Linked DNA regions of Homo sapiens. The protein of the gene in region 1 interacts with the protein of each later gene in a biochemical or structural test. Each region holds a gene or a part of one and is shown on either strand. Other genes may lie near its edges.

Region 1 (5,106 bases):
GAACTGGAGCCTAGAACCTGAGCCCTGGATGAAAGTCGAGGGAGTGTGGCCAGGTCTCAATTTGGAAGCCCAGAGTCTAAGATGTCTCTGCCCTTCCCCCTGTAGGGCTACAGACTTCCAAAAGTCAAGGCTCCCTTCTCTACTGATTTGACCCCACCCCAGTTTCGCCATCAAGATTTATCTGCTTCTGGACAGTTGTTAGGGAGCGCCATGTTCACCAGGCCTTCGGTCTGTTGCCCTGATCCTTTCCCCAACCCCCACCAGGTATCCTAAGAAGCTGGTGCAGACATACTCAGTGTTTCCCAACCAGGACGAGATGAGCGATGTGGTGGTCCAGCCTTACAATTCACTCCTCACACTCAAGAGGCTGACGCAGAATGCAGACTGTGTGGTGAGTCCTGGATTCTACCTCTCCCAACTCTCAACACCCCATACCCACTCGAGTCTATTAAATCATTTTCATGTATTTAAAAAAAATCCATTTTAGCCAGGTGCAGTGGCTCATGACTGTAATCCCATCACTTTGGGAGGCCAAGGTCGTTGGATCGTTTGAGTTTAGGAGTTCGAGACCAGCCTGGGCAACATGGCGAAACCCCATCTCTACTAAAAATACAAAAATTAGTCGGGAGTGGTGATATGTGCAGAAGGATCACTTGTGCCTCAGAGGCAGGGGCTGCAGTGAGCTGAGATCATGTCACTGACTGCACTCCAGCCGGGGTGACAAAGTGAAACCCTGTCTCAAAAAACAAGAACAAAAAAAAAAACTGTTTAAATAATTAAGATGAAAAGAAAAATTTAAAAATCCATTTTGAGCCCTCCTTTGCCCTAGGTCAGTGCAAATCTCTTTCCAGTGAGTCTTTCTGGCCATGAAGCTCAAAGGAAATTAAGCTTCAGAGCCTAGGGTCAGGCAGAGCTCCTGTTTTTCTTATCCCCATTGATCTGTGATCCTCTTCTGTCCCCCCAGGTGGTGCTGGACAACACAGCCCTGAACCGGATTGCCACAGACCGCCTGCACATCCAGAACCCATCCTTCTCCCAGATCAACCAGCTGGTGGGCCCCCACTCCTGGACTCCTTTGGACTTGAAGCCCTCCTTGTTGGAGGGTCATTTGGGGAAGGGAGGTCCCACCCAGGCTGAGGCCCATAACATGGCACGCCTGTCCCCAGGTGTCTACCATCATGTCAGCCAGCACCACCACCCTGCGCTACCCTGGCTACATGAACAATGACCTCATCGGCCTCATCGCCTCGCTCATTCCCACCCCACGGCTCCACTTCCTCATGACCGGCTACACCCCTCTCACTACGGACCAGTCAGTAAGAGCAGCCTTCAGTGTCCCAGGCCAGGCCGGCCCTGGGCCCAACAGGCCCTGTCCTAGCCTTTCTCTCTTCCCCACTGCCCCAGGAGCTACCCTTTGTGGACCCCAAGGCGCGGCGCTCAGGGACTGGCACAGAGTGGGCGACTTTCTTGCTGACTTGCTCTCCACCCTCCCTCTGCCTTTGGCTTCTGCCAAAGAGAAGCCAAAGGGGGACTGTGCCCTGAGCGCTGGCCGGGTCCCTGTCTCACTGTCCTATCAGGTGGCCAGCGTGAGGAAGACCACGGTCCTGGATGTCATGAGGCGGCTGCTGCAGCCCAAGAACGTGATGGTGTCCACAGGCCGAGACCGCCAGACCAACCACTGCTACATCGCCATCCTCAACATCATCCAGGGAGAGGTGGACCCCACCCAGGTAGGGGAGGCCCCTTCATCCCACACCCTGGACCTGCAGGGGTAGAGGAGAGGCCACCTCCACTGCTCCTATGCCCACCCCAGGTCCACAAGAGCTTGCAGAGGATCCGGGAACGCAAGTTGGCCAACTTCATCCCGTGGGGCCCCGCCAGCATCCAGGTGGCCCTGTCGAGGAAGTCTCCCTACCTGCCCTCGGCCCACCGGGTCAGCGGGCTCATGATGGCCAACCACACCAGCATCTCCTCGGTGAGTCTCAAAGTTTGCACCTTTTTTCCCTGAATCAGTTTCCTGACTATACCTCACCTCTCTGCATCTGCTGGCCCTGCTTCTAGCTTTTTTGCTGTGGGCATAGCCCAGCCTTGGTTCCCCAGCTTTCTGGGCCACGTTATTCTTTGAAGTTCTTTGTAACCCCTGTTTTCTGCACACCCCAAGCTCTTCGAGAGAACCTGTCGCCAGTATGACAAGCTGCGTAAGCGGGAGGCCTTCCTGGAGCAGTTCCGCAAGGAGGACATGTTCAAGGACAACTTTGATGAGATGGACACATCCAGGGAGATTGTGCAGCAGCTCATCGATGAGTACCATGCGGCCACACGGCCAGACTACATCTCCTGGGGCACCCAGGAGCAGTGAGTCCCCCAGGACAGGGACCCTCATCTGCCTTACTGGTTGGCCCAAGCCCTGCCTGACTGACCACCCCCTCAGAGCACAGATCAGGGACCTCACGCATCTCTTTCTCATATACATGGACTCTCTGTTGGCCTGCAAACACATTTACTTCTCCTCTTATGAGACTATTTATCTTTAATAAAGCACTGGATATAAATCAAGTCACTGCTCCCTTTAAAGCCTTTGGGTTCTGGAGATGCGGTGGGGATGCCTGTTCTTTCTCCATCATTCTGACAGGGTCCTCACCCACTTCCAGCATCTTCAATTCTGAACCAACAGCTTCCCCTAGGTTTTTCCTCTGCCTAGTTTTGGAGAACGCTGGTGGGGTTTGACCCACCTGAAATTCCTTTCCAGGGTAAAAAGGCCCAGAGATATTACTTTGTTCTCTGTCTGACCCTTTCTGGGTCCCCGTTCCCTCCCACCCTCACTGTATCAGGTGAATATTCCACCAGCCTCATGTTTCCACATCAGAGTGTCTGATTAATCACAACCTGAGGCCCAAGGCCACCACCACTGCCACTAGGCCATGAACAAGCAATGGAGTCCAACCCAATACCTTTAAGCTTCTAGCAAGCAGTCCAGGAGAGCCGCTCGTTTCAGGCAGTTGGAGTCTAGCAGCATCAAGTCAGCGACCAAATCTAAAACCTAGACTGTAAGCAGGATCATAAGTGGTTCCATAGCTAAGGCACCGTAATTCTCTTCTCTAGTGGTTGCCAGTAATTTAAATGGCCAGTGCCTTCTACTTCTGGTGGAAGATTGCAGGGAGGTAGTAAATACATAGGGGCCTAAGTCTTCAGGATTGTTTTTTTTTTTTTTTGAGATAGGGTCTTGCTCTGTCGCTTTGTCACCCAGGCTGGAATGCAGTGGCATAATCACGGTTCACTGCAGCCTCGACCTCCCTGGCTCAGGCGATCCTCCTGTCTCAGCCTCTTAAGTAGCTGGGATCACAGGCACACACCACCTAAATCTTCAGGATAAAAAGGGCAAAGCAGGTTCTCCTTAGAGCATGGTGGGTTGTCAGGGCCCCATTAGGCTCTTATACACACCATAAAGTTATATAGTAGTGACAGCTAACACGCACACATACGCTGTGAGAAGTACATTATTTTGTTGAATCCTCACAACAACCCTATGAAGTGGTAGATACTAATTTTTTTTTTTTTGAAATGGAGTCTGGCTCTATTCCCCAGGCTGGAGTGCAGTGGCATGATCTCGGCTCACTGCAAGCTCCACCTCCCGGGTTCCAGCAGTTCTCCTGTCTCAGCCTCCCAAGCAGCTGGGACTACAGGTGCCCGCCACTGCGCCTGGCTAATTTTTTTGTATTTTTAGTAGAGACGGGGTTTCACCGTGTTAGCCAGGATGGTCTCGATCTCCTGACCTCATGATCCACCTGCCTCGGCCTCCCAAAGTGCTGGGATTACAGGTGTGAGCCACCGCACCCGGCTGGTAGATACTAATTTTTAAAATACAATAACAAGGCCGGGTGCGGCGGTTCACGCCTGTAATCCCAGCACTTTGGGAGGCCAAGGCAGGCGGATCACCTGAGGTTAGGAGACCAGCCTGGCCAATATGGTGAAACCCCATCTCTACTAAAAATACAAAAAGTTAGCTGGGCATGGTGGTGCATGCCTGTAATCCCAGCTACTCAGGAGGCTGAGGCAGGAGAATCGCTTGAACCTGGGAGGCGAAGGTTGCAGTGAGCCGAGATTGCGCCACTGCACTCCAGCCTGGGTGGCAGAGCAAGACTCCGTCTCAAAAAAAGAAATAAAAGTAAAACAATAAGGCCGGGTGTGGTGGCTCACGCCTGTAATCCCAGCACTTTGGGAGGCTGAGATGGGCGTATCACAAGGTCAGGAGATCGAGACCATCCTGGCTAACATGGTGAAACCCTTTCTCTACTAAAAATACAAAAAAAAAAACAAATGAGCCAGACATGGTGGCAGGCGCCTGTAGTCCTAGCTACTCGGGAGGCTGAGGCAGGAGAATGGCGTGAACCCAGAAGGCGGAGCTTGCAGTGAGCCAAGATCGCGCCACTGCACTCCAACCTGGGCAACAGAGTGAGACTTTTGTCTCAAAAAAATAATAAAAATAACAATAAAAGTACAAATAAAAACCAATACAGTATAACAATGATTTACAAGCATTTACCTTGTATTAGGTACTACAAGTAATCTAGAGATGATTTAAAGTACTGTACAGGAGGATGTGCATAGGTTATGTGTAAATTCTACACCATCTTATATATTTTCTTCTTTCTGTTTTTTTTTTTTTTTTGAGACAGTCTCACTCTGTTGCCCAGTGCAGTGCAGTGGTACCATCTCGGCTCGCTGCAACCTCTTCCTCCCAGGTTCAAGCAATTCTTGTGCCTCAGCCTCCCTAGCAGCTGGGATACACACATGCGCCGCCATGCCCAGCTAATTTTTGTATTTTTTGTAGATATGGGGTTTCTCTATGTTGGCCAGGCTGGTCTCGAACTCTTGACTTCAAGTGATCTGCCCACCTTGGCCTCCCAAAGTGCTGGGATAACAAGCATGAGCCATGGCCATATTTTATTTTTTCTAAACCATTTTATTTAATTAAGGATCTGCAGATTTTGGCATCCTTGGGTGTCCTGGAACCAATACCCTGTGGGTACCAAGAGACAACTGTACTTGCTCACTATTGGCCTAGGAATGTACTTTTCCTTCTATGAACCTGTTTATCTTTCATGG
Region 2 (4,525 bases), on another chromosome or scaffold:
CCAAGCGGAGGTGGGTGGAGGCACGGGGAGGGGGCAGATTGGACCGGTGGAGGTGGGTAGAGGCAAGGGGAGGGGGCAGATCGGACTGGCTCCAGAAGCACAGGCTGCGAGCGAGACCTCTGACCCAGCATTCACCTCTAAGTTGGCCACTGACCTTGGGCAAGACACTTAATTGCCATGGGCCTCAGCTTCCCCTTCCTTAAAATGGAACCACAAGATTTTCTTGGCTTACCGCACAGGGTTTGCACAAGAATTATTCCAGAGGATGTAAGTGCATGCCCTTGACAAGGCATACGGCTTTTTCTTTTTTCTTTTTTTTAATTTATAATAGAAAAAGTGTTTCCTTCCAGGAACTTTTTTTTGGGGGGGGACAGAGTCTCGCTCTGTCGCCCAGGCTGGAATGCAGTGGCGCGATCTGGTCTCACTGCAACCTCCGCCTCCTGGGTTCAAGAGATTCTCCTGCCTCAGCCTCCTGAGTAGCTGGGATTAAAGGCATGCACCACCACGCCTGGCTAATTTTTGTTGTTGTTGTTTTTTGTTTTTTTTTTTAGTAGAGATGGGGTTTCATCATGTTGGTTCGGCTGGTCTCAAACTCCTGACCTCGTGATCTGCCTGCCTCGGCCTCCCAAAGTGCTGGGAATACAGGTGTGAGCCACCGTGCTCAGCTAGCCAGGAACTTTTTTAACTAGTTTTTTTTTTCTTATTTATATTATTATGCTAATATTATATTATGCTATTATACTTGTTGGTAGTGTTTTGGGGGTTTTTGGTTGTTTCGTTTTGTTTTCCAAAGAGGCATAAAGCTTGGGGGATTTTTTTTTTTTTTTTTTTTTGAGACAGTGTCTTGATCTGTTGCTCAGGCTGAATGCAGTGGTGCGATCACAACTCACTGCAGCCTCAAACTCCTGGGCTAAAGCCATCCTCCTGCTTTAGCCTCCCCAGCAGCTGGGACTATAGGCATGTGCAACCACGCCCAGCTAATCTTTAATTTTTTGTAGAGACAGGGTTTCACTGTGTTGCCTAGGCTGGTCTCAAACTCCTGGGCTCAAGCGATCCTCTTGCCTCAGCCTCCCAAAGTGCTAGGATTACAGGTATAAGCTACTGTGCCAGGGTGAGGCATAAAGTTTTTTGTTGTTGTTGTTGTTTTGTTTTTGTTTTTTGAGACCAAGTTTCACTCTTGTTGCCCAGGCTGGAGTGCAATGGTATGATCTTGGCTCACCGCAACCTCTGCGTCCTGGGTTCAAGTGATTCTCCTGCCTCAGCCTCCTGAGTAGCTGGGATTACAGGCATGCGCCACCATGCCCAGCTAATCTTTTTGTATCTTTAGTAGAGATGGGGTTTCTCCATGTTGGTCAGGCTGGCCTCGAACTCCCAACCTCAGGTGATCCGCCCGCCTCGGCCTCCCAAAGTGCTGGGATTACAGGCGTGAGCCACCACACCTGGCCCGGCATAAAGTTTTAATTTAAGCAAAAAGCAAGTAATAAAAGTACTGTCAGCCACGGCCTATTGAGGGACCACATGCTGTGTTCTAAACACTTTCCAGGAATTATCTCATTTAGGTCTCCGGACAATCTTGATGGAAATTCTCCCCACTTTACAGATGAGAAAACTGAGGCTGAGGGAGGGGGTTGCCCAAGGTCACAGAGGTAGCAAGTGTTAGACATGTGGTTTGTATCTAGGTCTATCTGGTTCCAAAGTCCATGCTGCTAACCATTTCACCACATCAGAATGTCAAGGACAGCTCATCTGAAAGGAAAAAGCCTCAACAAGGCAAGAGGTGGGTTGACGCTATGAGAAATGCTGGGTCCACAGAGCCCACTGCCAAGTGCTGACTGTCAGGTCCGGCCACAGTGTCTCAGCATTTTCTGCCCAAGCAGACATGCGCAGAGTGGGAGGCTGCATGCAGTTAGCGAGGAGCGGCCCACACTCAGACCCGCCAATGGCCATGCCCAGCAGCCATGCGAGCTGGTGCCTGCCTGGCCAGAGGTGGAAATCCTCTCCGTGGTGCTGGGTGTGCCCATGGCCATGGCACATGGAAGCTCTGGCTGTTCCTTCCCGTCCTGGGTGGCAGCTTCCGTGGTGCCCTCTGGGCTCCTTGGGGTTTCAGGTCCCTGGGTTGGCCTGGCCACACTTCCCCTCTCGGTCATCTTTGCACCTAGCTGCTCCGTGGTAACTGAGGCAGGGGAGCTGCTTCCCAGCCTCCCTGGCTCTGGCCTTGGCCTCTCCTGCTGTAGGCCATGTTCCTCCGTGAGAGTCCAGGTATCTGGGAAGATGGCCTGCCGGTCCACTGCCACTACAGCTGGCTCTGTTACTTCTTGGAAGCTTCGAGCAGCTCCAGAGGGGGGCATTCTCTCAGGCCCGAATACCTCCGAAGCCCATGGCTGCTCCCATGTGGCAGCCAAGGCCTCCTCTGGGCACGAAGGGCTGGCTGGTGGCCCCTGGGGCTCCCCAGGCTCTTGGAGAGCTGTGCTCCCAGCACAGGGTACAGTGTGGCAGCGGGGAGCCCCAGAGAGCTCACTTGTGATGGTCGGCAGGTGCCTCCAATCTCGACCCTGACTCTCTGTGCCCACTGCCCACAGAGAACCCTCCACAGAGGGAGACCTTGAGTTGAAGGTGTCAGGCATCACCCCAAGACCAGCCAAATCAAGCCAGCTGGGGGCTACAGGAGGTAGAAGGCCTCGTCCACTCTGCTCAGTACAAGGGAACTCCGGAGTGTGGCCCTGGCCTCGAGGGGAGGGTATAGTGGTGGGTGGCAGAAATACAGATGGCATGGGAGGAGGAGAAGGAGGAAGGGAGCAGTATGAGGACGGAGCAGAGCTGGACAGCCCCGGGGCACTCAGAGCCACAGTGGAGGAGCTGGTCTGGAGAAGAGAGAAATGCAGAGGGGAGAGGAGAGAGAGAGATGAGGGGAGTGAGGACGGCTGCACCTTGCAGGCGGTGGGCTCGGCCTTAGGGCTGACCAAGGTGGCTGCAAAGCTGACGCACAGGACTGACCCTTGAAGGAGACCCAGACCCCAAAAAAGCTTCCCTGGGCTTTGCGTGCTTAGCCCTCACCAAACCCAAGCAAGAGAAAGCAGCCACCAAGCCGTGCCTGTGGAGCCACCCAGGGAGGGTATGAGAAAGAAAAGACCACGGTAAGGTGGACAAATGGGGAGCCAGGTGGCTACGGAAGACAGCCCCAGGCACAAATGGAGGGAGAGCCAGCCCCAGGGGCTGCTGAACCCGCCTCGGACACTGGCCCAACTCGGCCATGTCCCTCCGGACAATCCCAGCTTTCCTACACCCCAAGTCCTCTACGTCTTCCACATCCTTGCTCCAGGGATCTGACTAAAACCACTGCTGCTTCTCCTGGCATCAGGACACAGGCTGTCTGAGAAAACGGCAGCCTTAAAAGCACCGGGGCACAGCTCCCTCAGGCCAGGCCCTGAATCCAACTTACTTGCTTCTGACCATGGCTGCTCAGAACCACTGGCCTGGAGCTGGAACTATAGCACGCAAGGGTCACAGGGCCAGGCTCAACCCTCCACCCCAGCCACACTCCTGTCTCCCACCATGAAACCTCAGCTGAAGGGAGGCTAGGAGACACCATCAGGGCCAAGGGTGCAGGGACCGTTCACTCCCCTCTCATATTCCCTAGGTCATGCCCCAAAGGTCTCCAGCTGACCCACGTGGAAGTATGAAGTCAGCAGCTGCTGGTGAGTTCTGTCAATATCAATCCCCAAGGAAACACTGAATCCTCTAAATTAAACATCTCAGGCCTGGCAGGACTGGGGAGGCCCAGCAGGGGAGGGGAAGGGCAGGTACCTCGTGCAAGCCTGGCCCCATGGTTTCCCACAGACACGCTCGTGGGAACTCAGAGGCCCTGGAGGGCGAGAGGGAAGGATGGGAGAAGAGTAGCAAGGGAGGCTTGTGGATTCAGGATCAGAGGCAGAAAGAAAGAGGATGTGTTGAGGACAGCTAGCGTGGGAGATGGGGCTCCAGGGCAAATGACCTCCCAGGCACAGGCTCCCAAGTCCCACATGGCCCAGCAGAGAATGCCCTCCCCCACCCAGAGCAGCCATCAACACAAGGTTCTTTGTCCCAGCGTCCCAGCCTCCTGATCCCCTCGACCTGAGAGGCTGGGAGCACCCAGGGAGGAAGGAATGTCCCAGCTGAGCACTTCTCCAGCTTGTCTGCCTTCACTGGCTACTGCAATCCTCAGGCAGGCTGACCCGGCCCTCCCTCCCCATCTCCTGGCATCACAGCAAGGCCAGGGCATGACAGTGTCCCTGGCTCAGGGGCAAGGCACCCAAACACTGAGATGCCAAGATCCAGCTACCCACACTGAGGTAAGGGAGGAGAAGGATGAGGGAGGGGCGGCAGGGCAGGGAAGATGGAGGGTTCACAGGGCACCTTGAAATCCGACAGCGAAGCCATCAGCTCGTCCAGCTCCCTGGTGGCAGAGGAGGCCGAGATGCGTGTCTGCTGTTGGGTGGAGGTGACGCGCTGCGGGCTGCTCATCTCGCCCTGGTTCACAGTGATGGCA

The links. Proteins that work in one complex are often made in the same cells at the same time.
Region 2: the proteins of TUBG1 (region 1) and PXN form a complex in vitro, tested with the Homo sapiens proteins (one study listed by BioGRID).

What each region holds. Positions count from the first base shown.
Region 1 is NC_000017.11:42,612,683-42,617,788, forward strand, and holds the end of TUBG1 (tubulin gamma-1 chain), read left to right. Parts: intron 1-264; coding exon 265-391; intron 392-964; coding exon 965-1,051; intron 1,052-1,166; coding exon 1,167-1,316; intron 1,317-1,577; coding exon 1,578-1,730; intron 1,731-1,813; coding exon 1,814-1,975; intron 1,976-2,161; coding exon 2,162-2,359; 3' UTR 2,360-2,556; downstream 2,557-5,106. UniProt on the Homo sapiens protein: Tubulin is the major constituent of microtubules, protein filaments consisting of alpha- and beta-tubulin heterodimers. Gamma-tubulin is a key component of the gamma-tubulin ring complex (gTuRC) which mediates microtubule nucleation.
Region 2 is NC_000012.12:120,217,231-120,221,755, forward strand, and holds part of PXN (paxillin), read right to left. Parts: coding exon 4,393-4,525; exon of another isoform or gene 4,085-4,392; intron 3,696-4,084; exon of another isoform or gene 2,862-3,695; coding exon 1,977-2,861; intron 1-1,976. UniProt on the Homo sapiens protein: Cytoskeletal protein involved in actin-membrane attachment at sites of cell adhesion to the extracellular matrix (focal adhesion). Recruits other proteins such as TRIM15 to focal adhesion.